2 separate regions of the Homo sapiens genome follow, and region 2 is linked to region 1. Evidence: fine-mapped expression QTL. A gene starts in region 1. The other region holds a variant in brackets. All regions are shown on one strand. Distances are between the middles of the regions.

Evidence for each region. PIP is the estimated chance that this variant, and not a neighbour inherited with it, causes the effect.
Region 2: its variant is fine-mapped to the expression of BTBD17 in cerebellar hemisphere (GTEx, PIP 0.97).

Annotation. Positions count from the first base shown.
Region 1 is chr17:74,353,503-74,368,737 of GRCh38, reverse strand. It overlaps BTBD17 (BTB domain containing 17), which reads left to right and starts at 6,870. Exons shown (of 3, transcript NM_001080466.2): 1 at 6,870-7,003; 2 at 8,493-8,769; 3 at 11,007-12,322. The coding sequence starts at 6,919. The coding sequence ends at 12,081. KIF19 (kinesin family member 19) reads right to left here. Exons shown (of 20, transcript NM_153209.4): 17 at 15,157-15,235; 18 at 14,179-14,576; 19 at 13,797-13,956; 20 at 12,918-13,556. The coding sequence ends at 13,426. It overlaps GPR142 (G protein-coupled receptor 142), which reads right to left and starts at 1,232. Exons shown (of 4, transcript NM_001331076.1): 1 at 944-1,232. RefSeq lists enhancers at 1-618, 10,911-11,783, 14,605-14,654 and silencers at 6,999-7,048, 7,129-7,178.
Region 2 is chr17:74,568,325-74,583,559 of GRCh38, reverse strand. CD300LD (CD300 molecule like family member d) reads left to right here. Exons shown (of 4, transcript NM_001115152.2): 3 at 1,249-1,342; 4 at 3,447-4,195. The coding sequence ends at 3,558. Among named protein-coding and RNA genes, the nearest start is that of CD300H, 8.4 kb to the right of the region's middle. RefSeq lists enhancers at 13,244-13,973, 13,974-14,704. The variant C/T (reference allele first, on the strand shown) is at 6,131.

The sequences.
Region 1 (15,235 bases):
CTGGTGTGCACTCAGAAGAGGCCAGACTGGCTCTCCTGCCCTAGAGGAAGAGTGACCAGAGCAGCCCACAAGCAGGTACCCGGGACATGGATGCCCCGTGGACGGTCTCGGGAGGAGAGCTCAGGCCCCCCTGGAATCACCTCCCATGGCCTGTCCTCTGGGAATGCAGCAGAAAATATGGCAGGAAATATAGGGAGCTTCCCAGCTCTGGGAGTTAGATCTCACATCAGAGCCTGGAACTCCCCATCCCAACCCCCCCTCGGATACTCACAGCGCAGGCCCTGCTGCCCCCTGGTGGCCACATCCTGACCCTGCAAGCCTGAAAGTCCCATGGTTTGGCTAGGCACCCTGGGTGGCACAGTGGGACTGGAGACGGAGCTGCCCGCTCAGGGCAGGTCCTCTGGTGGAGTGCTGGGACCCCAGCCCCAGAAAGTGCAAGTAGCACAGATGACGCCCCAGGCCACCACCTCCTTGCAGCAGGAGGCTAGGGGTGAGAGGAGGCTGACCCTCTCTTCAAGGAGCTGCCATGGGTGAGGGGCAAGGAGGGTCCCTGCCAACATTTACCGAGTGCCCACCCTGTCCCTACACTTTGTTTTTTAAATTTTATGTATAGATATAGAGAGAGTTTGGGGCCTCGCTGTGTTGCCGAGGCTGGTCTGGAACTCCAGGCTTCAAGTGGTCCTTCTGCCTTGGCCTCTCAAAGAGCTGGGATTACAGGTGTGAGTCACCATGCCAAGCCCACTTTGTTTCTTTGAGGGATGTACACTTGACTGGAAACCTTAAATATTCTTCAGACGGAACACAAGGGTTTCAACCAAGGCTGTCACACAGGCTACACAGAAAACTAGAGCTCCCTGGATTCAGAGCGAGGAGAGGGAGAGATGGAGGAGGGGGACTGAGTTTGCTACAATGATGCCCCATGCACGTCCTTCCAGCAACTTACCATCCCACCCCATAGAAGGCCTGTTCTGGGAGGCAGCTGGATTCACCTGGCGGAAACTGCTGGAGTCCTTGGATGGCCTTATTCGGAGGTCCCAGCTTCCCCCTGTGACCTGTGGAGACCTCAGCCACCTGGAATGGCTGAGACAAGAATGCTGGCTTTTCTGTGCATGGGACACCATTGATTTGTCTTCCTCAGTATATGCTTCTGTACCCAGGACAGCAGTGATGTCCTGCAGGGAAGTGGGGACCCACTGGATCTTTTGCTCCATGGGCAACATCATAATACTCATTGCTAACAACGCTGGGATCCATGGTTCAAGAGATGGAGCCTGGAGATGTCCAGCTCAGTGGCAGCAGCAGACAGGACAGGGCAACCACGTCATCAGCCAGCACACAGCCTATACAGAGGTGAGAGGCCCCTTCTTGGTGGTGGCGATTCTTTCCTACATGGTGTGGTGTCAGTGACCAGGGTAGGCTGCTAGCCCACGGTGGAAGGGATCCTATCCACTAAGGCAGTCACCTCTGAGCCAGCCTGGGCAAGGTGAAAGATGTTATGAAGACCCAGCCGCACACCTTGACTTTTTTTTTCTTTTCTTTTTGAGACAGAGTCTCGCTCTGTCACCCAGGCTGGAGTGCAATGGTGCTATCTCGGCTCACTGCAACCTCTGCCTCCTGGGTTCCAGTGATTCTCCTGCCTCAGCCTCCCAAGTAGCTGGGATTACAGGTGCCTGCCACCATGCCTGGCTAATTTTTGTATTTTTAGTAGAGACGGGGTTTCACCGTGTTAGCCAGGCTGGTCCTGAGCTCCTGGCCTCAGGTGATATGCCCACCTGGGTCTCCCAAAAATGCTGGGATCACAGGTGTGAGCCACCGCACCCGGCCACACCTTGACCTTTTTGGTCTCTGAAGTCTTCAGCCCTGATCAGTCCAGCCAGAGCCACCAGGCCTGAGCACCAGGGTCTCTCTCTCTCTTTTTTTTCCTTCTGCCTCCCTACCCCTCAAGACAGGGTCTCACTCTGTCACCCAGGCTGTGGTACAGTGGTGTGATCATAGCTCACTGCAGCCTCGAACTCCCAGGCTCAAGTGATCCTCCCATCTCAGCCTCCCAAATAGCTGGCATTACAGGCAAGCACCAACACGCCCAGCTAATTTTCGTATTTTTTGTAGAGACGGTGTTTCGCCATGTTGCCTAGGCTGGTCTCGAGCTCCTGGGCTCATGCAATCCACCTGCCTCGGCCTCCCAGAGTGCTGGGATTACAGATGTGAGCCACCACACCTGGCCAAGGATTCCTTCTTATTTAAGTTTTTGTTTGTTTGAGACAGAGTCTCACCCTGTTGCCCAGGCTGGAGTGCAGGGGTGCAATCTCAGCTCACTGCAACCTCTGCTTCCCGGGTTCAAGCGATTTTCCTGCCTCAGCCTCCCAAGTAGCTGGGATTACAGTCACCAGCCACCAAGCTTGGCTAATATTTGTAGTTTTAGTAGAGACGGGGTTTTACCATGTTGCCCGGGCTGGGCTTGAACTCCTGACCTCAAGTGATCCACCCGCCTCAGCCTCCCAAAGTGCTGGAATTAAAGGTGTGAGACATCATGCCCGGCCTCATATTTACCTTTATGTGCTCCCCTGTGTACACGGGGCCTGGAACTTAAACCCATGATCTCCTGTCCCCAGTCCAAGTGGCCCAGTGACTCAGGGAACCCTAAGTCAGGACAGGAGGCACTACAGATGCAAGGGAGGGTGCCAGGTAGGGCCAGGCTGCGTCTGGAGCCCACCCCTCTGAGGTGTTACCACAGTCCAGTGTCTGATCACCCCCTTTGCAGATTCAGAAACTCTTTATCTGGTCCCAAGCTTGCAAGAGTTTTCCGTTGCTTTTACAGTACTAGAGATTCCTTGTCCAAAGGGATCACTTATCACAATTGGAAAAACTTCCCCAAAAAGACAGCATGGGCTGGACATGGTGGCTCACATCTGTAATCCCAGCACTTTGGGGAGGCCGAGGCGGGCAGATCACGAGGTCAGGAGATCGAGACCATCCTGGCCAACATGGTGAAACCCCGTCTCTACTAAAAATACAACAATTAGCCAGCCACTACAGGTAGTGGGTACCTGTAGTCCCAGCTACTCCGGAGGCAAAGGCAGGAGAATCGCCTGCACCCAGGAGGCAGAGGTTGCAGTGAGCTGAGATCGCACCACTGTACTCCAGCCTGGCGACAGAGTGAGACTCCATCTCAAACAAAACAAAACAAAACAAAACAAAACAAAAACACAACATGGGGTTGTGGAAAGAAAAGTCAAGTAGCCAGGTGCAGTGGTTCATACCTGTGGTCCCAGCTACTTGGAAGGCTGAGGCTGGAGGATTGCTTGAGCCCAGGAATTTGAGGCTGCAGTGAGCTATGACAGTGCCACCACACTCCAGCCTGGGTGAAAGAGTGAGACCCCATATCTAACAACAACAACAACAAAAATCAGAAAAAAGAAAAGTCAAGCACAACTCAGAACTCGAAAAATAAATCCTGCCTCTGAGGTTCCTGGTCATAAGACCTCAGACACATGGCTTGGGCTATAAACACTCCCGTCTGGGGCGGGAAGTAACACTCCTCTCTAGGATGGTGCTGGCTTGTGAATTCATCAGACTTGCCTTCAAGGAATTATGGCGCTCCCAGATCCATGGGGCCAATATATGTGTGTGTGTGTGTGTGTGTGTGTGTGTGTGTGTGTGTGTGTGTGTGTGTATATATATATATATATATATGCAGTGCTGCAGATTCTTCCTCTCAAAGACTTGGCCAAGCACCGTGGCCCACGCCTGTAATCCCAGCACTTTGGGAGGCCAAGGCGGGAGGATCACCTGAGGTGAGGAGATCGAGACCAGCCTGGCCAACATGGTGAAACCTCATCTCTACTAAAAATACAAAAATTAGCTGCACATAGTAGTGCACACCTGTAATCCCAGCTACACAGGAGGCTGAGGCAGGAGAATTGTTTGAACCCAGAAGGTGGAGGTTGCAGTGAGCTGAGATGGCGCCACCGCACTCCAGCCTGGGCGACAGAGCGAGGCTTCATCTCAAAAGAAAAAAAAAAAGGGCTCAGGGCAAATACCTGGCTTCCTCTCTCCCGCCCCAGGACACTCCCCCACACATACATATGCATGTACACATACCACACACACATATCCACAAATATGCATGCACACACACCACGCACATGCATGGACACACACAATACGCACACACATATAAATAGGCACATGCACACACACGCACTGCATACACACATGTGCACATGCATACCATACACACACACACACACACACACACACACACTCCAGCAATGCTCTGTTACGAAAATGAGAGGCCGGGCACGGTGGCTCACGCCTGTAATCCCAGCACTTTGGGAGGCCGAGGCGGTCGGATCACGAGGTCAGGAGATTGAGACCATCCCGGCTAACACGGTAAAACCCCGTCTCTACTGAAAGTACAAAAAATTAGCTGAGCGTGGTGGTGGGCGCCTGTAGTCCCAGCTACTCGGGAGGCTGAGGCAGGAGAATGGTGTGAACCCAGGAGGCAGAGCTTGCAGTGAGCCAAGATTGTGCCACTGCACTCCAGCCTGGGCAATGGTGCAGGACTCCGTCTCAAAAAAAAAGAAAAAAAGAAAATGAGAACAGAGAATGCCTCTATGTGGAAAGCTAGTTTCTAAATCATTCGAAGAGGGCCAGGGATAAGGGAGATTAGAAATAATGGGAGGTGGGGCCTGTCAGAGATGGGGAGTCAGAGGTGACTCTTCCGGGTCTTCTTGATGATCCAGGGCCTCCCAGCTTCCTTCACACTTGAAATGCCACCAATCTAGCTCTAGTAGGTAGCGCTTGTCTTGGGGTGCGTATAACAATTGTCTGGGAGTACTTAGAAAATACAGACAGCCAGACCCTGCCCCTGAAAATCCTGGTTCCAAGGTGGAGCATGGGAGATTCTAATGCAGGTGGCTACCCTTCAAGAATGACTGACACAAAATTAGCTAGGCGTGGTGGCACTGCCTTTGTCCCAGCTACTTGGGAGGCTGAGGCAGGAGGATCGCTTGGGCCTAGGAGTTTGAGGCTGCAGTGAGCTATGATTGTGTCACTGCACTCCAGCCTTGGTGACTGAGAGATTCTGCCTCTAGAAAAGCAAAACAAAACAAAGAATGACTGATGCAGAGGCTGAAGGAGGCTGGAGTTGAGAGGCACAAATATCAAACGACAGTTTTCTGAGTAGCGGGTTCTCTTATCATCAATAACATTCCTATCGAAAGCACTGTGCTTGGAAGCTGGGATGCCCTCAGGGACCAGGGCTGCCCTGCTGCATGGAGACTTGGACTTGCTGGGTTGAGCCAGGACATGGTACAGCCCATGGGAAGGGCAGGCGGGCAGCCAGTGGGCAAGGGATAGTGGATTTGGACGAGGGGAGCCAGGCATGAAACTCAGGGCAGCTGGAGGGGTTTCCGCTGGGCTGGAGAGCTCCAACTCTGCCAACCCGGACGAGGCAGGTGCCAGACCCAGTTCTTGCTCTCTCTGCGGCTCCAGAGAGGGGGTGGAGCTGCTGGGTCTCTGTGCCAGCCAGAGGCAGAAATCAATGCATCGAGCTGGCCCCTGGGATCCAGAGAGCCAGGGAGAGGAAGATTTAATTCATCCCCAACCTAGAGCCCTGCCTCGGAGTCAGATCCCTTGGGAGTCACCCACTTCGGTTAGCCAAGCTCAAAGGAGTCCCTCCCACGAAGAACTGGGGCAGACCCTGCTGGCTCCCTGCAAAGGTGAGGACTCACAGCATGCCACCCTACACACACACACACACACACACATGCGCGCGCGCTTTTGCTGAGCTCCAGACTCACTTTCCTCTCTCTGTTGCCTTTGTTTTTAGAAGAGCACTCCTCTGCACTAACCCAACTGAGACTGCAACCTAGCTCCCTGCCTCAGTTTCCTTACATTGGGAGTGAAACACCAGGTCTGCAGCATGCCTCCTTAGCCTGGAAAAGGAAAAATTACAGTGGGAAATAAGACAGAAGCTGGTAAAACAAGCCTTCCAAGGAGGTGAACCCAGAGACCTGAGGCCACTTGGGGAAGGAGAATTCAAGTCAGGAAATAGCAGGGCAGACAGTCCCCAGCCTTGGGCTGGCTGGAGCGCAGAGCTAGAAGGTGGCCAGCCCCGCTCTGGGCAGGGGTCACCCATGCAGTGGTGCACGGGGCAGGGTGCATCTGCTCTATGCCCAGCCCTGCCACCTGGCTCAGCTTGCCCCTGGGGGAGGCGACAGTCACAGTCCCCACAGAACTTTCCTGCCAGCCCATCACCCTCCCCACAGCATTCCAGGAACCTTCTTCAACAAAGAATATGAAACTGACATCAGTTGCCCATGGGCCCCTATTCGAGAGATCTCTGAGCTTCTCTCTGAGGAGCTGCCCCACCCCAAAATGGGAGTGGGGGAGGGGTGGGAGCCTCAGCCGCCTCTCCTTTCCTCTTCCAGGCCCTTCCTTTGCAGCCGGCTCACCATGGTGCTCCAGGCACGACGCTGCCAAGTGTGCTCTGTGCCAGGGCCGAGGCCTGGGGTTGGGGGAGGGAACTGGGGACCCTCAGGCCAATGGCTGCCAGTGGTCCTGGAGCCCCTCGCCTATTCTGCAGAGAGCCTGAAACTTTCCAGGGAGAGGCACGGCTAGCCCTGCTGGGTGGTAAGGAGATTGGGGGAGGAGGGTTCCGGATCTGTTCCCCTTGGGGGCCCACAGGCAGCACAATAGCCCCCGGGGCTGCCGCTCTCTGGCTTAAGTGGTTGCCTGGGCAACAGCTGGGGCCAGTTTCCACCAATCCATGGAGGAGGCTGAGTGGGGGAGGGAGGCCAAGCAGGAAGGGGGGTGCCGTCCCCTTGTGCCGGATCCTATATAAGGAAGAGGGATGTGAGCAGAGTGGTCTGGGCTTCACCGTCCCTCCAGTGGACTTGGGGGCTGAGCATAAAGATGCCTAGGAGAGGCTACTCCAAGCCTGGGTCCTGGGGCAGCTTCTGGGCCATGCTGACCTTGGTGGGCCTGGTCACCCATGCAGGTGAGCGGGCAGTGGGCCAGGTGCGGGGCAGGGTGGAGCGGCAGGTCGTCCCAGCCCTGGCTGCACGCGGCCGGCCAGGAGGGGGCGGTGTCCAGCTGCTGGGGAGAGCACGGGGTGGACCGGACAGCTCCACGGACTCATCTGTCTGAAGGAAGGAGGGGCCTGGCAGGCAGGTGGGCAGGGCTCTTAAGGACAAGAGGACCCTCCATTGCCCATTGTCCTGGGCAGAGGCTGAATGGGGACGCCATCAGCATTCAGGTCCTTCAAAGTGACAGCTGGGGAAGGCCGTGCTGGGAAACATACTACCCGCTTCTCTTTCACCCTCCCTTTGTCCCTCGGCCTCCCTCTCTCATGCACAGATGCTCTGCTCCTGTGTGAGCCTTCTCTCCTGTGTGCACCACGGGCCTGCATGTGCTGTGCGTGCACATGTGGCTGCGGCCCATCTGCTGCAATCAGGCCCCCGCCCGCCTCCCTCTGCGAGGCTCCCCTCGCTGTTCTCGGCTTGGGAAAGCTGCTGACAGTTTCTATAACTGAGTGCATATCCCCATCTGACTGTCGGGGCATCCTGGAGCATAAGCAAAGGGCCGGCCTGGCCAGCCTCAATGCTCAGTTACCCAGGAAGTTCTATTCCAGCACCAGCTGGCCCTTCGCACTTTCTCCTGTCCCCTGCTGGCCACCCCAGAAAATCGGCTTCTGTCTCAGAGATCAGGACCCAAGAGGGCAGGGCTGGGCCTGGAAAACAGCTTCCCTTCCACACCCGCAGCCTCGTCTCACACCCGCCCCTCTCTCCTGCTACTGCTGTGGCCTCCCTAATGCTCTCTCTGCTCCCAGTACCCCAGGCCCATTCCGTTCAAGGGCCTTTGCGGGGCTGGAGCCTGCCTTGACACTGGTTCCCTGGCTGGCTCCTTTAAAACTGGAGTGCTTATTTGTGTGTGTCTTACCCGTTTGATATGTCAATTCGTGCTTTTATGAGCATAAGAACTTGGCTTGCTTTGTCCACTGCCACATCCCAAGCTCTTAGGAGAATGTCTAGCATATAGTAAGTGCTCAATAAATATTTGTTAGTGAATGCACCACTTCTGACTACTGCTCCAAGGGGTTAGATGGATAATTCTTTAGGAAGTGAGAAGGGTGGGACCACGAGTTTCCTCAACCCTTGCCTGGGGGGCTGGCAGCATGGAGATGAGTTCTGGGCATGTTGTCCTAAACCTGAGCACAACCTCCCCCTGCCTGAATGCACCCCCTTCCAAGAGCATCCTCTTGGGGTTTGCATTGGCATGACCTTCCCACCCAGGGTGCGTTTGTATGTGCACCGATGCATCCACGCGCCTCGTGGGCACAAACAGGTATGCACATACAACCCGCCTAGGCCCACCTTGCCCTCTGCTCACACCCATGCATATGTCTCCAGCTGGTCCCTCTCCACCCCTGACTGAGGTTCTGGGCCCGGGCACCTTCTCAGGCTATGCTGTGTTCCTTCCTGCTGCAGCACAGAGAGCCGATGTTGGCGGGGAGGCAGCTGGCACCTCCATCAACCACTCCCAGGCGGTGCTCCAGCGCTTGCAGGAGCTGCTGCGGCAGGGCAACGCCAGCGATGTGGTTCTGCGGGTGCAGGCTGCGGGCACCGATGAGGTCCGGGTATTCCACGCCCACCGCCTGCTGCTGGGACTGCACAGTGAGCTGTTCCTGGAGCTGCTAAGTAACCAGAGCGAGGCGGTGCTGCAGGAGCCACAGGACTGCGCCGCTGTCTTCGACAAGTTCATCAGGTGGGGACGCGGAAGACTAGGGGATGGCTTCATCCCTTCCTCAGCCCCCGGCTCCTCCACCTACAGGGTCAGGGAAGCCCAGGCCCTTAGAGGTTGTTATGTCCATTTCCCCGGACATCACTGGGATGACAGTGACCCCTGCATCCCTTCTTCCACTGTACAGCTCCCTGTCTTTGCCCGTGTCATCTGTGCAGTTTGATGTCACTTTCGGTTCCTAGTAACCCCCTCAGAGCTGTTTCCAAACCTGGCCATAGACAGCTTTTAAAAACTACAGTTTTGGGGCCGGGCACGGTGGCTCATGCCTGTAATCCCAGCAATTTGGGAGGCTGAGGCAGGTGGATCACTTGAGGTCAGGAGTTCAAGACCAGCCTGGCCAACATGGTGAAACCCTGTCTCTACTAAAAATATAGAAAATTAGCTGGGTGTGGTGGCACACGACTGTAATCCCAGCTATTTGGGAGGCTAAGGCAGGAGAATGGCTTGAACCTGGGAGGCAGAGTTTGGGTTTGCAGTGAGCTGAGATTGTGCCACTAGATTCCAGCCTGGGTGACAGAGCAGGATTCTGTCTGAAAAAAATCAACCAACCAACCAACCAACCAACCAAACAAACAAACAAAAAAACTACAGTTTCACGGATCCCAACCTGGATTGTCAGTTTCAGGTCTAGGGTTAGGGCCAGCAATCATTTTTTATTTTATTTTATTTATTTACTTTTTATTTTCCTAAATATTCCATTATAGACGAATATTTTTTATTTGAAAGCATCGCTGTGGTTTTGGTGTTTGGCCAGGTTTGGAACCACAGGGCTAGGGAGCTGAAAAAGTTAGACGGCTCTCTCCACCTCCTGCCTCCTGCCGTGATGCTGCTCAGGGGGTGCCATTCACACTAGTGTCTAAGAAAGTAACTCTGTTCTAACGGCTCAGACGAGATGCCTGCAGAATTCCATACATTGCTTCCAAGTTCCAGGCAACAGGAAAGGGGATAAGACAGAAGGGCAAAAAGGGTCTTCCTGTTAACCCGGAATCAGTTGCATTTAATCAGCCTTCCTGCAAATCCCAAACTGCGCCCATTGACCAGCAGTTAGTCACATGGCCAAGGCCAGAATGAGGGAGCCTGGGAAATGTGGTCTTTTATTCCCAGAGGCAATCACGCAGGGGAAAGGGGAGAAATGGACGTTGGGGAAGATGGCTGGCAGTGGCTGCCACACTCCTATAGAGGCAAGTGCGGTGCCGTGTGCCGGTGGGGACTGGCAGGAAAGGTGAGCCATGGGACAGTGGCAGAAGTAAGACGAAGAGATACTCAGCAGAAGTGATCACCAACAGTAGGAGAGGAAAAAGAAAGGTGAGGCTGCAAAAAAGAAATGGGGGCTCACACCTGTAATCCCAGCACTTTGAGAGGCCAAGGTGGGAGGACTGCTCAAGTCCAGGAGTTTGAGACCAACCTGAGCAATACAGAAAGACCCCATCTCAAAAAAAAAAAAAAAAAAAAAAAAAGCTGGAGTGTCGTGGCATGATGATCATAGCTCACTGCAGCCTTGAACTCCTAGGCTGAAGCTATCTTCCCACCTCAGACTCCCAGGCAGCTGGGACTACAAGCGTGCACCACCACACATGACTAATGTTTTAACATTTTTTATTTTTTGTAGAGATAGGGTCTTGCTATGTTGCCCAAGCTGGTCTTGAACTCCTGGCCTCAAGCAATCCTCCCATCTTGGCCTTCCAAAGTGCTGAGATTCCAGGTGTGAGCCACTAGCACCCACCTGGCCTGTAGCAAGATTCTTTATTCTCCTCTGGTTGTCACAGTAACCCTGAGGGGTGTGTGCCACTCCCCCTTTCCTAGGTGATTGATTAGCCTAAGGTTCACTGAAGTTAAGTGACTTGCCCAGACTCATGGCAAGGAGAAGGCAGGCCATGGATCCCAACCAGACTGGAAACCCCAAAGGCAGGAGCCACGTCTGTTTTGTTCCAGCCTAGGGCTGCACGCCTAGTAGAGGCACAGTCAATGCAGGCAATTTCTACATCACCGCGGAAACGGAAAGAAGAGCCTGTGAAGTAAGAATGGCCTGGAAGGGTCCTTGAAAGGAAAACATGGGAAGCCTCAGGGTGGGGCTTCCACTGTGTTTGCACCCGGACAGTGAAGCTCCAACTCCAGGCCGGGTCCCCTGTGGACTCTAAAAAATCTATCCTGGGAGGTGGGTACCGCCCTGACCCCGCCCCACCTCTCGGTCTCTCCCGCAGGTACCTGTACTGCGGGGAGCTGACCGTGCTGCTGACCCAGGCCATCCCCCTGCACAGACTGGCCACCAAGTACGGCGTGTCCTCCCTGCAGCGCGGCGTGGCCGACTACATGCGCGCGCACCTGGCGGGAGGCGCGGGCCCGGCGGTGGGCTGGTACCACTACGCGGTGGGCACCGGGGACGAGGCCCTGCGCGAGAGCTGCCTGCAGTTCCTGGCCTGGAACCTGTCGGCCGTGGCGGCCAGCACCGAGTGGGGCGCCGTGAGCCCCGAGCTGCTCTGGCAGCTCCTGCAACGCTCGGACCTGGTGCTGCAGGATGAACTGGAGCTGTTCCACGCGCTGGAGGCCTGGCTGGGTCGCGCGCGGCCGCCCCCTGCCGTGGCCGAGCGGGCGCTGCGCGCCATACGCTACCCCATGATCCCACCGGCACAGCTGTTCCAGCTGCAGGCGCGCTCGGCAGCCCTGGCGCGCCACGGCCCCGCGGTGGCCGACCTCCTGCTGCAGGCCTACCAGTTCCACGCCGCGTCGCCGCTGCACTACGCCAAGTTCTTCGACGTCAACGGCAGCGCCTTCCTGCCCCGCAACTACCTCGCGCCCGCCTGGGGCGCCCCGTGGGTCATCAACAACCCGGCCCGCGACGACCGCAGCACCAGCTTCCAGACGCAGCTGGGCCCGAGTGGCCACGACGCGGGCCGCCGGGTCACCTGGAACGTGCTCTTCTCGCCGCGCTGGCTGCCCGTCAGCCTGCGGCCCGTTTACGCGGACGCCGCGGGCACTGCTCTGCCCGCCGCGCGCCCGGAGGACGGCCGACCGCGGCTGGTGGTGACGCCGGCCAGCAGCGGCGGCGACGCGGCGGGCGTGAGCTTCCAGAAGACGGTGCTGGTGGGGGCGCGCCAGCAGGGCCGCCTGCTGGTCCGCCACGCCTACAGCTTCCACCAGAGCAGCGAGGAGGCCGGCGACTTCCTGGCGCACGCCGACCTGCAGCGGCGCAACTCCGAGTACCTGGTTGAGAACGCCCTGCACCTGCACCTCATCGTCAAGCCCGTATACCACACCCTTATCCGGACCCCCAAGTAGCCTCGGGGTCTGGGAATAAAGGCCTGGCCTAGGTGGTCCCTGTGGGTCTGGGAAGGGCAAGGCGAGCCTGGAGGTGGCAACAAGCCTGGTCCCCTGGATGGCCAGGCGCCGGCCACCCTAGGGCTGGGGTGGAGTCCAGGTGAGGCGTGGTAGACAAGATGCCTGGTTTCAAGAGCTGATTTCACAGCTGACTTGAAGGAACGTTCTTGGTCCTGAATAAACCGATGCTCAGAGTGGTAAAGGGATGATTGAACCACTCAGTTTCTGGGTAAAAACAACCCAGGGAGGGTCCCACAAGCCAGGGGGTTTAGGGGTTTCACTCCCCTTTGTTGAGCTTTCCCCCCACCCAGACACAGAACTAGGGCAGGTAAAAGCATCCACATGGTCACAGCAACCCACCTGCCTGGGAGACAGGGAGCGCCCCATTCCCCTTGCGGGGGAGTCAGGGAGCACCCCATTCCCCTTGCAGGAGTTTCCTCACTTTGAGGCTGAGGGGCTTAGCTGGGCAGTTTCTGAGCCCTGACCTCGAGGGGCAACCGCCTCATCTGGGTTGTGAGACTTTCTGGCATCTGGGCCGCCTCAGGTCCCTGACCTCTCCTGGGAGGGTGCCTGGGCAGGTGTGAAGGCCAGTGGGATAGGGACATAACGGATCTTGCTAGCCCCACCATGGGGAGAGGCCTCAGGATCTAGAGAAAAACCCCTCTCCCCCAGGTATTTGTAGGTTGGTGCTATATAGCGAGCCAGGGGTAGATGGGGACTAGGGGGAGCGGGAGTTGGTTGAATCTTAGTCATGGCCACCCCACATTCCAGACAAGGTCAAATTTCCAACACAACCATCAAGACCCAAATGGGATTTTATTGTTAAAAAGGAAGGGTGAGAAAAAACCACTGCCAAGTAACAAAACCAGATTCCCTCCCTCACCCACATCCCCAATTGTAATACGTGAAGTGCCTGTCGGCGCCTCCCCAACCATCCAGGATGCCCGTGCCCCACACGTGGGCCAGGAGCCCCGTCTCACTGTCAGCTGCTTTCCTCCGTTACCAAGGCCGAGGCTGGCCTCAGGGCTGTGCAGGTTTTGGCAACAGCATTCTGTCCAGGGCTGGGAAGCCAGGGAGCCCAGCCGTCCTGGCCATGTCCCCTGGCCTCACCTCTTTTCCCCAGTGGCACTGAAAGCATGGGAGGGTTGGGCAGAGACCCCAGTTCCTGGGTCTCAGGAGCCCTGGCCTGCTGAGATCCTGAGCTTACTTCCTGGTCATCTCCATCTGCCCAGCCTCCACCTCCCATGCCCTGCTAGACCCCATTCAGTCTTGGGAGGTGAGAGAGCCAGTTCCAGGCAGGGCCCCTCAGTTATGCCGGGAGCATCCATCTTTGCCATGGGTGCTTGTGCCGTGGGGCAGGCGGGGCCCACGGGTAGCCCGTCGAGAACCACCACCTGGGTTGGGGGGAACAGCCAGGGGTGAGGAGTCCCCCGGGCCTGCAACAGGGAAAGGGGCAGGATCAGTGGTTTCGGAATGCCTCCCCAACTCCTCTCCCATCACCCAGTGGCCTTGAACTCTCTAGGGGCACCACCCCAGGATGCCAGTCCCATGAGTATTCTGCTAGAACCATGCTTCCAGCAAGGGGCAGCCAGAGGCGCAGGAAATGCAATGTGTCTTCTCTGCTCCCCTGCCTGGTGGAGGCCTCCCCTCCCCATCCCCTCCTTGCCCATACTGACCCGTGTTCTGGCTTGGAGGGAGTTTGACTTTGGCCAAAGGTAGCGTGACCTTTCCCAGATGCCGGATACCAGGGGCTGGGTGCCTGCACACTGGCATCCTGTGGTCCGAGATGCGCTCCGCCTGATGGGGCCCCAGGAGGTGTGTCTTGGGGTGGGAGAGCTGTGATGGTTGAACAGTGGGGTGAGGCCGAGAGCGGCACAGGGATCTGCTACCAGGATCTGTCCCAGCTACTATGCTAGGCTGGGGACAGAGACTGTGGAGGGTGGTGCCTCCAGGTATGGGGTAGGCTAGAGGTGCCCTGGAGCCTTTGGAGAAATCCAGCCCTCAGGCCTCCAGCTGCTATGGGAGTGCCTAGACACCCACCCCTGCGCCTCGCCTCACCCCTTGCCCGGTGACCTCGAAGGATCGGGACCTCCGCTTCCTTCTCTTTGCCTCCAGCGACTCCTCCCTTTTCTTGCCCAGGCTTTTCTTCTGGCCACGCAGCCAGGGCCTGGGGCCGTCCCCATGATGTCCGACTGCCCGGGACGGGGCCTCGCCCGTGCTGCTGGACAGGTTGTCCTCACTGGCAGCATGCTGTAGTGTGGGGCTGGGCGGCCGCTTGCAGGCCAGTGGGCCTGGTGGCCGCGCATCGTCGCCCTCGCTCAGTGAGTGCAGGGACAGGCTGCTGCGCTCTGTCGCGGGTGCCAGCAGGTGTCGCCCCTCGGTTCCCAGGGCCCGCGAGCGCCGCCGGGCGGCCTTCACCCAGATGCACTTGGTGCCAGTCAGGATCTCCTTCCTCTCTGCAGCGGGACACGGGGAACATACAACCCGAGATCAAGGCCACCTCTCAACACCCTCCTCTGACATGGCAGACGTGGGTAGGAGCCAGACCTCCTGGGTTTCAATCCTAGCACTTCCAGGGGTTTGCTATGTAAGAAACTTGGGCCCATTTCCGAGCCTCACTTTCATCTGCAAATGGGGGATGGTAAAACTAATGCCATCGGTTATTTCCAGGATTAATTGAGGAAATGGGCTCAACCTACATTATCCAGGGGGCAGACATTGAATCGATATTTGCTATTACAGTGATTACTGAGCGGAGGCGGCGGGGGAGGGGGGACATAAGTCTCCATGCCACATGTCTCTTTTCTAATTTCCGATTCTGCCCCCATCTCTCTAAATGTCCTTGACTTAGAGAAGACTCTTAAGTGTCCTTGACTGACTAATCCTCAGGGGCAATGGTGCCTCTACAGAATGTGTAGCACCCAATGCTTGGTTGCACTTGGCAGTGCAGAGGGCAGGAAAGGGCTTTGAGCTGGGTGATCTGAACAGTTTAGACAAGGCCAGGTGAGGTGGCCGGGCAGCAGAGGGCACACATACCTTTGTGGGACAAGGGGATCTCCGACAGGTTCTCACTGCTGTCAGGGGAAGAGTTGATCCAGCTGCCCAGGCTGTCCTG
Region 2 (15,235 bases), 210 kb before region 1:
GCTAAGGCTGTCACAACAAAATACCACAGACTGGGTGGCGTAAACAACAGAAACGTATTTCTCATAGTTCTGGAGGCTGGAAGTCCGAGATCAAGGTGTTGGCAGGTTCAGTTGAGCCTGAGGCCTCCCTCCCTGGCTTGCAGGTGGCTGCCTTCTTGCTACCCCTTCTTGCGGTTGCCCCTCTGTGCTCGCATGCCTTGGTGTCTCCCTGTGTGTCCTCATCTCCTCTTCAGAGAACGATACCAGTCAGATGGCATTAGGACTTACCCTAACAAACTCATTTTAACTTAATTGCCTCTTGAAAGGTCCTATCTCCAAATATAGTCACATTTTGAGGTACTGGGGACTAGCATATCAACATATAATTTTTAGGGGTCCACAGTTCAGTCCCTAACACCTGGGGACAGAGTAAGGGGGAGGGCGGGCATGGGGATTATGAATGTGTTGACTGTCCTGATCATGGTGGTGGTGTTACCGGGTATACACATACATCAGAGTTTAACATATTGTTCTCTTTAAATATTTACAGTTTATTATGTGTCAGTTATACCTTGATTTAATCCCAGAAAAATGATATAAAAAGACAAATATGATGCTGTGATCTCTTATTATTAGATTGCTCCTGAAGCAAACTTTGAATATCAAAACTCACTACACACACCGTCAGCGTGAGTAGGGTGTGGTCCAGCAGGAATTGGCACACAGCAGAGGCTGGGATGCATCAGACATAGCCAGACTTCAACAGGGGTAGGGAGGGTGAGATTGGGAAGCTGCTGGAAGACAGGAAACGGCCAGAGAGGGAAGAGCGGAGGTGGAGGGCGCTGGGCCTGGCTGCAGAGAGCCAGGAATCCGGGGCTCTCCAGAAGTGGCTCAGCGAGGGGGCCACCAGCTCAGCCGCCGAATCACTCCAGAACAGGCGGTAAGGAGTTCACCTCGGCTGTGGCCGAGACTCAGAAAAGAGCTAGCCTAGCCCGAGGAGAGCGGAATGCTATCGAGTGTGCTAAGCTGTGCCATGCAACTGATGATTGCAAATTCCCTCCTTAGTCTGCTCCTCAGAATTTCTCACATGGTAATAATTCAGTAACTTCTCTTTAGAAGATAATTCATGTAATATTTTGGATGCTGACCAGACAGTCTTGGACCCCAAGGCAGAGGCTCCTTAATTCCTAGGTGGAGAAGCCTTAGGGCCACAGCCAGAGCTGGGCCATCCATGGAAGGGGTGAACCGTGTTCTGCTTTGTATGTTTAGGCACACAAACTGCAGTCTCAGAATGGACAACCACAACAGCAAGCCTGGCTTTCACAGCTGCAGCCACCCAGAAGACCAGCAGCCCCCTCACCAGGTAGGTGGAGCCAGGTCCCACCACTTTCGCACAGGCCTGGCCCCATGGCCTCTCCTCTAACAGGGGTTGCCAGATACAACAATAGCATGCCCAGTTACACTGCAATTTCAGACAAACAACAAAACATTTTTTAGCATAAGTATATCCCAACTATTTCATGGGCTATACTTATACTAAAAAAGCATATGTTGTTTATCTGAACTTCAAATTTAACTGAGCATTCTATGCTTTTATTTGTTAACTCTGATAGCCCTGTTTTCTGGGGGTACTCAGGCTGGGACCCCCATAGGCCCCTGCTGTTTCGTCTTTGTATCAGTAAAGTCACTGCAAACCTCCGATGGCCTGCCCCAATCTCAGTTTACCTTTGAGGAAAATAAGATTTCCCATCTAAGTGTTGGCTACATGAAGGCAAACTCTGCAGCACAGACATGAGCCACCACATGACTGAAGGTGGCAGGAGAGGGGCCTGAACATGCCCTCCCCACCTCCTGGGGTCAAGAGGGCATATCGAGGTTTGGCCTTTAGTGGGTTAGGAGAGACACCTCTCTCATCTGCTCCTAGTTTCTGCCCAAGAACAAATATTGTTCCAGCCTCTCTCTCCCAAGACACCAGAGTAGGGGAATGGAAAATGCTAGAGGGAAAGGGGGAAGCTGGAAGTTTGGCGTTCTCACCCTCCCAAGCTGGCAGAGGGGTCTGGAGGATTAGTCTGATGCTCACCAGCCCTGGAGGTGTCCAGAGGAGTCCCCAGAGGTCGGCACCTGATAGCTAGCCGTTGGGTTCCATCACGGCCTGCTGTGGTCAAGCCCCCCAGGTCAAGGCCAGAGCCCAAACCACAGACCGTCCTGCTCCTGCTAGAGCCCAGCGCAGAGGCCCGTGTCTCTGGCTCAGTCCTCCTGGAACTACTCCTCAAGGTCTGCCAGTTCCCTCTGCAGTTCAACTCTGTTTTTTTTTTTTTATTCACTCGATCTTGAGTTCTGAGAATGCATCTGCAGAGCTCCACCCACGGAGCTGGCTTTAGGACTCCTCGACTGTTTTTTTTTTGTTTGTTTTTTTCCTCCTCCATGCTTTTGTGCAAACTGATGGGACTTTAGCTGTCAGGGGACAGAGGGCAAAGGACTCCAGAGGTGTAGCAGGAGAGCCCCAAGAGTGAAGATGCTGGGAAGGACCTTTGGGGGCATTTTGACCCGTGGCCTGCTGTATAGCCCCTCCTCCATCTCCCCCAAATACCCTCAGTCCCATCATCTGAGGGCTCATCCGGCATTCTGGAGTTGGATATAATTTTGAATTTTCTTTTCTGTCTTTTTTTTTTTTTTTTTTAGAGATGGGGCCTCAATATGTTGCCCAGGCTGGTCTTGAACTCTTGGGCTCAAGCAATCCACCTGCCTTGGCCTCCCAAAGTGCTGGGATTACACGTGCGAACCACCACGCCTGGCCTGATTTTTAAAATTTATCCGTGAGCTGAGAGTGGCTTCAAGTTGCGCTGAGGTGAAAGAAACAACGAAGGCCCAAGTTGGGAGGTCGAGACCCTGGGAAGTGGGTGGAGGATGGTGAGGGGGTGGAATTGATGGTCAATAAGGTTCTGGGCCTTACACATCCATAGAAAGTAACAGGGAACATAAGGAACCCCAGGGCCAGGTGCTGGTCCACAGGAAGAGGGTCAGAGCAAGGTCAGCCTCCAAGGCCTTCAAGAATATGATGTCAGATCTGATACCTGAAAGGTGGGTAGCGTTTGCACAGGCAGCGATGAGGGCGGAGAGGCCCTCTGGGTGCAGAATGCAGCAGAAGCCGAGGTAAGTAGAGACAGGGAATGCTAAACCCCTTCAAGATAGGTGAGGAGGAGTTATGGGAGACCAGCCAAAAAGGCCGGATGGGAGTTGGCAGACGGGACCTTGAATGCCAGGCTGAGTTTACTGGAGGTGTAGGGAGGACTGGGAGCCTCGCTGGTGAGCAGTGTGACTGTGCCCCACCAAAGGGGCTGGCCTGTCTGGGGTTCCAGGCTTACCCTCACATAGACATTGGAAGCCAGGATCTGGGCATAGAGCTGAGAAGACCTGAGACCTCTGACCCAGGAGGCAGCTCATTTCCTGTCACCGTGTTCCCACAGGTCCCCGCTCAAGAGCACCCACTTCCTGTTCCTGTTCCTCCTGGAGCTGCCTCTGCTCCTGAGCATGCTGGGGACCGTCCTCTGGGTAAACAGACCACAAAGAAGGTCTTGAAGGAGGAGGAGTCAGCCCGATGATGAGAGTCCCAATGCCCATTGACGTCCTGTCCAGGGCGAAAGGCCCTCCCACAGAAGAAAAAACATTTTCTTTTCTCTTCTTTTTTTCTTTCTAGAGATAGAGTCTTGCTCTGTCACCCAGGCTGGAATGCAATGGTGTAATCTCTGCTCACTGCAACTTTCCCCTCCCAGGCTCAAGCGATCCTCCTGCCTCAACCTCCAGAGTAGCTGGGGCTACAGGCACATGCCACCACCCCCAGCTAATTTTTAAATTTTTTTGTAGAGATGGGCTTCCACCACGTTGCCCAGGCTGGTCTCGAACTCTTGACCTCAAGAGATCCTCCCGCTTCGCCTCCCAAAGTGGTGGGATTACAGGTGTGAGCCACCGCACCTGGCAGAAAAACAACATTTCTATGGGGAATTGACTGTGGTTCTAGAGGCAGTGCTGGCCCCAGCTTCAGGGAACAGCCTCCTAGTCCCCTATCTCCTGCAGCCGTGCCACCTGGGGCTATTCCCTTCTCTGCACAGTCCCTGGGGCCTGACAGAGCCCTTCTTCCTTCTGAGGTCTCCAATGCAGTAGAAAACATGAGAAGAATGTGTTTCCCCCGAGAGGCACCTATGCCGTAGTGGACATTCGTGATCTCAGGTCTGTGAGCCACATGCAATGTTAACGGACCTGTCTTTGCATTCCGTGGGGTTCAAGTCTCCAGTCAATAATGGGTTTCAAAATCCTAAACCCATGAAAACAGAAAAACGGAACCAAACTCTGGTAATGGGCCAACTTAAGGGAAGATGAGTACAGAAGAGAGCAGAGGTTTCCGGGCTGCCGTGCCAGCTGCTCTCCTGCCACTTGTGGGGAAGGGAAGTCAGGAGATTCCTGGATGAGTACGATTGAAGATGATGGGAAAACACAGCCTCCTTTCGTCACTGTAAGACTTTTCTATTAGTGTTGATTGTTACATTTTCTTACCTCTTTTAAGAGTATTGCAGTTGGCTGCTACTCTCAATTTGGGGTATATGGGGAGATCACCCATACATTTTGGGGACTGTGACATAATCCATAAACTGGATGCCAGAGCTAGAACTGTGAGCTGGGGATGGCTGGGTCCTCAGTACCGCCTGCCTGGGTCCCCAGGGTGGTGCTCAGTCTTGGACTCTAATGACTGAGCCCCCTGCCCAGTGGGATCATCTGGTGGTTAAGACAGAGGCTAAATAACAGAAATTCCCTTCTGGGAACATGAACCAGGATCACCCAACTGCCCTCTGTCAGGTCAATCTCTGTACCCAGGTGAGACCCTTATTCACTCCCCACCATCATTCATTCCAAAATGCTGGGCGCAGTGGCTCACTCCTGTAATCCCAGAACTTTGGGAGGCCGAGGTGGGTAGATCACTTGAGGCCAGGACTTTGAGACCATCCTGGCCAACATGGTGAAACCCCATCTCTACTAAAAGTACAAAACTTAGCTGGGTATGGTGGCGCACACCTATAATCCCAGCTACTTGGGAGGCTGAGACATGAGAATCTCTTGAGCCTGGGAGGTGGAGGTTGCAGTAAGTCCAGATTGCACCACTGCACTCCAGCCTGGGTGATTGAGGGAGACTCTGTCACAAAAAATACATAAATAAAAATAAAAAATAAGCGAAAACATTTACTAAGCATCCACTAAGTATCAGGCACTGTTCAAGTACAACTATCACCGAAATAAAGAAAAAGACCTGGGTAAGTGCCGTGAAGGCAGTCTACAGGCTCAAAGATAAAGGATCACTCAGCTAGAAAATGATGAAATCATGGTTATTATCCAGACTCCCCCACCCCCAGCCTCACCCTTCATGAGCTCTGCCGCCCCTCTCTGGGCTGACCCATGTCCTGTCTGCTGCCCAGGCTCTGACCAGCGCTGCTCCCAGCCCCCACCCAGTGTGGACACCCCACCAACTCATAACACTCTCTGAGCTCCCACGTTCTCATCTTGTTTTTAACAACATTATTGAATCTTTCTATTGACTCTCTGCAGCAAAAGATGAGGACTTCTGTATCTTCCTCTTTTCCCACCATCCTCTTCCCCGTACTAATATTGTCAGTATGGTGGTTTTTGTATTGATGATATTCATTGTTGGTTTTTTTGTTTGCTTGTTTTTTTTTTTTTTGAGACGGAGCCTCGTTCTGTCACCCAGGCGGGAGTGCAGTGGCGCGATCTTGGCTCACTGCAACCTCTGCATCCTGGCTTCAAGCAATTCTCCTGCTTCAGCTTCCCGAGTAGCTGGGAATACAGGCACATGCCACCACGCCCAGTTAATTTTTGTATTTTTAGCAGAGACGGGGTTTCAACATATTGATCAGGCTGGTCTCAAACTCCTGACCTCAGGTGATCCACCCGCCCCGCCTCTGGTAACTGTTTTTAAAAGTGCAATCTAGCCACAGTGAATAGGGACAAGAGTCAGACTGGGGAGCTCTTGTGCCTGTTCAAGAGGGAAGGCCCTGTGGTAATCAGGGAGAAAGAGGGGGGTGGGAGGGCAATGGAGAAAAGTGGACAGATCTGAGGGTCTTGGGTTAACACAATGGCTGGGGCA[C/T]GAGCAAAAGATGAGCCAAGGATGTTGCCCAGGTGACTGGAGTTTGGTCTGAGAAAAAGGGGACCATGGGTGTAATTTACTGTGATGAGAAGAGGATCAGGCTGGGGAGTTTGCAGGAGGTCAAATCAAGAGTTTCCTTTTGGGGGCCGGGCGCGGTGGCTCACGCCTGTAATCCCAGCACTTTGGGAGGCCGAGGCGGGCGGGTCACGAGGTCAGGAGATCAAGACCATCCTGGCTAACACGGTGAAACCCCGTCTCTACTAAAAATACAAAAAATTAGCAGGACGTGGTGGCGGGCGCCTGTAGTCCCAGCTACTTGGGAGGCTGAGGCAGGAGAATGGCGTGAACCCGGGAGGCAGAGCTTGCAGTGAGCCAAGATGGCGCCACTGCACTCTAGCCTGACTCCGTCTCAAAAACCAACAAACAAACAAAAAAACAGAGATGTAATCCTTGCCCTTAGAGAATCACAGTTTGGCAGATACACGTGTTCTACCTCCACTCAAGGTGATTTTGCCCGCCAGGATGAAGGCACAAGCAGCAAGCTGCCTAGATTACTTCAAACTCCCTTCCCAGAGCACCAGGAGAGAAAGCATCTGCTTTATCCCAGCCTCAAGTTCCTGGTTTCTGGTGTCTCCTTCTAAGCAACAAGGTCTAAGTGGCAAGGTCTAAGCAGCTTGGCAAGACAATCGGGACATTTAGCCTCATGACTTCTCAGCTTCAGACTCCAATCACAGCCGCCGGGGAGCCATAGGTCACCAAAACCAGCAGCTCAACGTGACTGTGCTTTACTTGTCTTATTCTTCCCCTTCACGACCTCAATCTTTGTCTTTCCAATTCCTCCCCAGATCTACTAGCAAGAGGCAGTTAACCAGATCAACATCCTCATTCTTATGGTTGAAAGAATGCAAATCGATTCTCATTCTGCCATTTTCCTTTCTTATTTTGTCGAATATCTCAAAGTTTCTCTTTCCTGTCAAGACTAGCTAATTTGCACAATTGCGTCTAAATTTACTGATTTAATTCTTTCTATAAGCTAACTTCTCTGTTCTTGCTACCCATATAAGAGATTCTTTCTCTAGTCAATACTCAATAATCAATAACATTCATAGACATGTAGTGGGAATATATTTGAATAAACACTGTGGTATTGATGGATAAAGGGTCTAATGTAGCAGAAACTAATTACAAAAATGATAGCAAACAAATAAAGCAAAATCGAATATCCATGACAAATCCAAAAGCAATTTCCTTGGAAAGATGTTGACAAGTCTAATGAAATGAAAGATATATGATGTTGATCTCTGTAACTGAATTAACTTGGACATCTTCCCAACAAGATCACTATTTGAGTAGAATTTCTTTTCTTTTTCTTTTTCTTTTTCTTTTTTTTTTTTCTTTGAGACAGAGTCTCAATCTGTCGCCCAGGCTGGAGTGTAGCGGCATGATCTCGGCTCATTGCAACCTCCAACTCCCGGGTTCAAGCGGTTCTCCTGCCTCAGCCTCCCGAGTAGCTGGGATTACAGATGTGCACCACCACGCTCAGCTAATTTTTTGTATTTTTAGTAGAGATGGGGTTTCATCATGTTGGCAAGGCTGGTCTCGAACTCCTGACCTCAGGTGATTGGCCTGCCTTGGCCTCCCAAAGTGCAATGATTACAGGCATGAGCCACTGTGCCTGGCCACTATTTGAGTAGAATTTCTCACCTCATTTGCCGTACTCCCTCCTGTACCTGTGGGACCTAGTACTCCTGGGTAAACACTCTTTTTCACTGGAAGCTAGCTTGATGGTACCTTACCCCGCTTCCCTATCATCACAACAGGTGGCTCTCCCCTCTGTTATCATATTGCACTAAAATTCAGTCAAACTTTCCATCTCTTATTGGGGGTACCCAATACCACTCCCAGGTTTAATGATTCACTAGCATAACCATGAAAAGGAGGTCTAGAATAACAAACTCCATTTTGCTCCTGACCACACCCCTACCCTGCAATATCTTTAGCATATAACCCAAACTAACTGTGGGAGGAATTTAGTGTATAGTTTAACTTTTTTTCTTTTCTTTCTTTCTTTCTTTTTTTTTTTTGAGATAGAGTCTCGCTCTGTTGCTCAGGCTGGAGTGCAGTGGCGCGATCTCGGCTCACTGCAACCTCTGCCTCCTGAGTTCAAGCAATTCTCCTGCCTCAGCCTCCTGACTAGGTGGGACTACAGGTGTGCACCACCACACCCGGCTAACTTTTGTATTTTTAGTAGAGACAAGGTTTCACCCTGTTGGCCAGGCTGGTCTCGAACTCCTGACCTCAGGTGATCTGCCTGCCTTGGCCTCCCAAATTGCTGGGATTACAGGCATGAGCCATCACACCTGGCTATAGTTTCACTTTAAAGCAAGGATGATAATAGTCCCTTTGCAACACCCCTGAAGCAATAAGGAAGACATACACACAGTAACAATGTTATGCTAACGATTTATAGGAGCATTGTGACCTGACCAAGAACAAAGAAGTTAATGCAACCTCCTCAGCTGACACCCAGATGTCTGTGGTCACCTGTCACTACCCGGCTCAACCTCCTCCTTGTTCTGCCTTCCCCAATATAAAAAGAAGCTTGAGGTTCATGCCTTTTATGATTGCTCTTTAGGACATGAGTCCACCATCTCTTTGGTTTGCTGCCTTGTAAAGCCATCTTCCTTGCCCCAACAGCTTGTCTCTCGACTTACTGGCTGTTGCTTGGCAAGCAGTTTGAGCTTTGGACTCGGCTACACTAGAAGGACTCAGAACTCAGAAAAGCTGTTATATGCATGGTTATGGTTTATTACACTGAAAGGATATGGATTAAAACCAGTAAAGGTAAAAAGTGCGTGGTGCAAGCTGCCAGCTGTCCTCTCCCAGTGGGATTTTGCAGACAGTGTTTAATTCTCCCATCCTAGCAACAATGTGTGACAACACACACAAAGTGCTCCATCCAGGGATGCTCACCCAAGCCTTGGTATCCAGAGAGTTCACTGGGGTCAGTCACATAGTCATGGAACACCTGTAGAACTGACCTCAGTGCCTAAGTCGCCAGAGATCAAATTAAAACTACATAGCTCAAAGTTCCCCCTACCCACCCATGAATTACATTGATAGCATCAACCATCTAGCATGGCTAGAAGCCCCCACCATAATCACATGGTTAACATGAGCTATCCAGCATGGCATCAAAGCCCCCAGATAAAAAAAGACAATCTAACCAGGCAGGATATTCCAAGGGTTTAGAGCTTATCTCCTAGAAGCAAAGCAAGGGCTAAACTTTTTTCGGGAAGGTGCAGGCTTTGGACAACCTAAGCCTGCTGAGTTAATATTTTTCCTGCATACATCCCTGCAATTGTAGCAGAACTGAGTTTCAAGCAAATGGGTTTCAAGGAATGACCAAAATGCAGCAGTGTTCTACCATTGACTATAATGCATTGCTGCTGGATTTTGGTCATTACTGAGAACCTCAGCCATTAGTTATTACTGAGAACCACAGCCATTAGTTATTACTGAGAACCACAGCCATTAGTTATTATTGAGAACCACAACCATTAGTTATTACTGAGAACCACAACCATTAGTTATTATTGAGAACCACAGCCATTAGTTATTACTAAGAACCACAGCCATTAGTTATTACTGAGAACCTCAGCCATTAGTTATTACTGAGAACCACAGCCATTAGTTATTACTGAGAACCACAGCCATTAGTTATTACTGAGAACCACAGCCATTAGTTATTACTGAGAACCACAGCCATTAGTTATTACTGAGAACCACAGCCATTAGTTATTATTGAGAACCACAGCCATTAGTTATTATTGAGAACAACAGCCATTAGTTATTACTGAGAACCACAGCCCTTATGGAGTAACAGAGAGCTCCTCTGATTTCCTGGTCCGTCTACTAAAAAGACAACTGTGCTGAAGTGTTCATCCTCCTCATATTGGAACCAGAGCCTCTAGTACCCATCAGGACCCTGCAGGGCCTCAGTCTTGTTCACCAGTGTAGATAGCAGTGCCTGGCACAAGTCACCTGCTGGATGGAATGAGAACACATGGCATGCGGTTCTAAGATGACTCTCCTGCCTGCCCGCTCTCCCTTGACCCAGAGACAGGAGGAGCTGTATAATGTGGGTTTCCTTTATCTTAGTTAATAACAACCTTATTGCTGGGATTGGATCCTTCCAAGAGTATGTATCCACTCAGGTCTAGTGCCCATTCTAGGTGGGCACTAGAAGGTATGCAGAGAATTAGGTGCTTATAATATTGTGGAAAGGGCCGAAGAAGCAGCTCCTAAGCTTGTCCCTCCCTCCTCCCTCACATCCAGAACAGCCTGCTTTTGAGGCCCCTAGGGTCAAACAGGGAGCATGAAGTCTTGGTATCTGCCAAGCAACTGCCTTCCACATCCAGGAAGCTAGAGAATAATTTTATGAAGCTGCAATCCAAGGAATCTTCCTAATGGAAGTCAGATGAAGAAGTTGTCACTGCCCTCACTGCTTCTTGTCACCCAGGAAGCTAGAAAACATATCCTGGAACTCTGCTTCATGAAAGTCTCCTGTTTCTTCTAATCCTTGTTTGCCAACAGCAGTGGCTAAGAGCTGTGGAAGATAACCTCTGTCTAACTGGGCCTTTCAAATGGCCTCAGAGACACCTCAGTTGGTGGAATCCAGTTGTCATCCAAATCCCTGATTTCCAAATGAGGAAAGTGACAAGAAGCCTCACTGTTTCTGCAAAGGTCTTGCCCCAGACAGGGCTCCTCCAGGGAGAAGGAGCACAGGTGACTCATGCTGAAAAGCCAGAACGGTGAAGCATTGGGACAGACACCAGGACGTTGTCTCAGTCAGCTCAGGCTGCTGTAACAAAATACCATAAACCGAGTGGTTTATAAACAAGGGACCTTTATTTATTATAGTTCTGAAGGCTGGGAAGTCAAGATCAAGATGTTGGTAGATTTGGTGTTTGGTGAGGACTCTCTTCTTGACTTGCAGATGGCTGCCATCTTTCTGTATCCTCGTATGGCAGAGAGAGTGCTATGGTCTGAGTGTTTGTGTTTCTCCAGAATTCATGTGTTGAAACTTATTCCCAGTGTGTTGGTATTAGGAGGTGGATCCTTGGGGATAATTCAGTTGTGGGGGTGTAACCCTTATGAACAGGATTAGTACCCTTGTAAAAGAGACCCCAGAGAGCTGTCTTGCCCCTTCCACCATGTGAAGACACAGCAAAAAAAAGTACTCTTTATGAACCAGAAGGTGAGTGCGCAACAGACACTGAATCTGCTAGCACTTTGATCTTGGACTTTCCAGCCTCCACAACTGTGAGTAATGCATTTCTGTTGTTCATAACCCACCCAGTCTATGGTATTTTAAAATAGCAGCCTAAATGGACTAAGAAAGAAAGTGAGATCTCTCTTCTTCTTCTGATAAGGGCACTAATCCCACAATGAAGGCCTGATCCTCATGACCTCATCTAACCCTAATTACCTCCCACAGGCTCATTTCCTAATATCACCACATTACGGGTTAGGGCTTCCACATATGAATTTTTGGGGGAACTCATCAATCCATAGCAGACACCCAGAAGCAGACTTTGTTGTGTTGTTAATTTCCCCTGAAGATACTTCCTGCTATTCTGCAAACAGATATTGAATGAAATAAGACTTGGAGGCCTCTTCCACTTGCCATCTCTCAACCCATCTCACCCCTGCCTGAGTGTTGCAATCCGTACCTTGCATCATGAGAGCCAGAGGTGGGACCCCACCGAAGACCTGGGTTCAAATCCTGACCTCCCCACTTCCCATCATGACAGTTTAGTTCGTCTTTCCAGCTCCAGTCATCTTATTTAAAAGTGACCTGGCAGGGGTGTTGGGATGGGTATGCAGGATTTAAATATACAGAGTGCATGGTACGTAGAAGATCAAAAGAGGAAAGTTTCCCAGAGGGATGCCACCACCTTCAAATGCCTTTGCTCAACTCCTGGGACTGAGCAGGGTGAATATTTTTATTCCTATTTCACAGATGAGGAGACTGATGCTAAGAGACTTTTGCTGATTTGCCTAAAGTCATATAACTAGTGAACAGCAGACCTTAAAATCTGAGCCAGGGCTCCCAGCTTATGGCCAGAACCTTCCTCACTGTGCTACATGGCCCACATCATCAGAGTCAGGTAGAGACCCTCTCTGAGCCGGGCTCCCTATAGCACCCCAGCCCCCATGTTGGGAAGACCCTCCCCACACCCTGCTCCCTAGAGAGCCCTGTATTTGTAACAAGATCCCAAAGAGGCATCCATTGCCCAGAGCCGGTCAGGAGGCTGCCCTCTTGGTGACGTCTCCCTTGAGTGCCAGTGGGGAGGGAAGAAAGTGGGCAGTGGGGTCCACCATCCTTGGGCACTTGCCCATTCTCACCATGATGCACAAGATACTGAGAACTACTCCCCAAATGGATTGACGTCGGGTAGTAGAGGTGAGAGAAGAGAGGCCCAATGCCTTAATACATTCCTGATCCCCTCCCCTGGAAAATATGGAAGGATCGGAGCTCTCACCCTCCAATTCAGCTCACAAGGCTGGGGCCGAGCTCTGTCTGCGTCTCCGGGTGCCCAGATTGGTCCTGCCTTTGTGGAGGCTACAGCCTCACCTGGAAATGGATGCCATGCAACAGGACAATGACAGCACAGGGACATGAGATTAAATACAGAAATAAGCATTGCAGGTAACAGGAACCCCAGAGGGAGGGGTCTGGAAGGCCTGGAGCAGGCAGGGATGCCTTCCAGGAGAGGTGTGGTCTGAGCTCATCCTGGGAGAGTGAGAAGGGAGGATGACGGTTTTCGAGGAAGCAGAAAGACAAGCACAGCCCCGAAAGGCAGAGAGAAATGTGTGGGCTACTCACACTGTCCTACACATCACATGCCCCGAGTTTGCCCTAAGAACGCACCCCTCACTGATGAGATCTTAACTTTCTGGAAGCCCCAAGAGCTGTCCCTCAAGGGCAGCGATGGTGGGGGTCTCAGTGTGGTGCAGTGCCAGGCAGGGCCCCGGGCTCCCCGCCCTCCTGTGCCTCATGGCCAGTGTTCATTATTCTCAGTCCTCCCCTAGCTCTGCCCTCCTGGAGCGGACAGCATTTTCCAGGACAGGTTTCAGAGACAGAAGGACAAGGGCCTGCTGGGGAAGGGACAGCGGCTCCAGATGCTGGCCTTGACATGGAAAAAGCCTGGATGTCCCAGATGTGGGTCATCTCTTCAAGGAATTTGTCATCTCCTGGGGGACTCCAGGGCCCAGAGTACATCTGCTTCAAAGGTGGGTTCCCTGTGGCATTGCCATGTCCTTTGCATTTGGCAAACTGTCTGGTCCTAGCTAAAAAAATGAAACACACACAGGCTGTTTCTAAGCAGACCCTGCAGCCTCTCCCTGCCCCGACCTTGGATGAGCGAGAAGCACGGAGTCGGTGTGCTGCGGGGCACCCTTCCAGCCCGGTTAGGGAACCTCCAGTAGTGGGTTCTGTGGTTGTGGTCAGTGACTTGCCGCCTTGTCCTGTAAGAGGACTGTGCTTCTCCTTCCCACTGACTTCAGGCTTGACCCTATGACGATGAACGGTGAGCAGGAGCCGCATGTGCGCCTTCTGAGCAGAGGCTCAGAGAGCCACCCGGTGCCTTCCCTCTCCTCTAGCGGACTGGGCTCCGCAGCCTGGTGCCCAAGCAATGCTGACTCACCGCTTGCGTATAGACGAGCGAGAAACAAGCTTCTGTGGTTACAGCATGCTGGGATTAGGAGTTTTGCTATGGCAATGTGAGCCAGAAAGAGCTGACTAATACAACCCTGTGCACCCGGTGGTTTGTCCAGACAAGGATGGCGAGAATGTTTTCTGGAAAAGTCTGCAGCTGTGCGTCATCTCCTTCACAGACTCAGATCCCTTCTTCCCAAGAAAGGCACGTTGAGCAGCCCTTGACGCAGAGTCAGGGAGGGCCAGGCAAGCCTTTCCTTAGCGCCCAGAGCTAGGCACAGAGGGCGGGGCTCGCAACCGGCTCTGCAGGCTGCAAGGGGAGACATCTTTATCACTCCCAGCTCCTGCTTCCCCTCCACACACATGCACGCACCAACCCACACACCACACATATACACCACATGTACACACACACACACCCATACACCTCCCCACGCCCACACATGCACACACCACCCCACACACCACACACATACGCCACATGTAGACACACACCACCCACACCCCCCACACATGCACACACATACACACACCACACACATACACCACATGTACACACACACCACCCACACCCTCCACGCCCACACATGCACACACATACATACACTACACACATCACCCCACATACCACACACATACACCACACACCACCCCACATACCACACACGTACACCACACATGGACACGCACACACCACATACACTCCCACACATGCACACATATACACACTACACACACCACCCAACACACCACACACACGTACACACATACACACTACACACATCTCATCTCATACACACCACTCACATCACACACACCACACACACATTACACACACCCTACCCCACATACTGTACATATACACCACATGTACACACATCTCACACCACACACGTGCACACACATACACACTACACACACACCACCTGTGCACACACACCACACACACATGCAAACACACACACTACATGCACCCCACCCCACACATCACACACATACACCACATGTACACACATACACACACTACACACATCCCACCCACACCACACACACCACTCACACCACACACACGACCCCAAACACCACACACATACACACACACTACACACATCTCACACACACCACTCACACCACACATACACACACACTACACACACACCATCCCACACACCATGCACATACATCACATGTACCTACATACACACATACCACACATACTACACACACTACCCACACCACACACACTACACATATATCCCTCATACCACACCCATATACACACATGTGAACACACACAGAAATATGAGGACTCCACATGCAGCAAAAAATGAACAAGCAGGAAACACATTTACTGAAACACCAAGGAGGAGACATTTGATAAC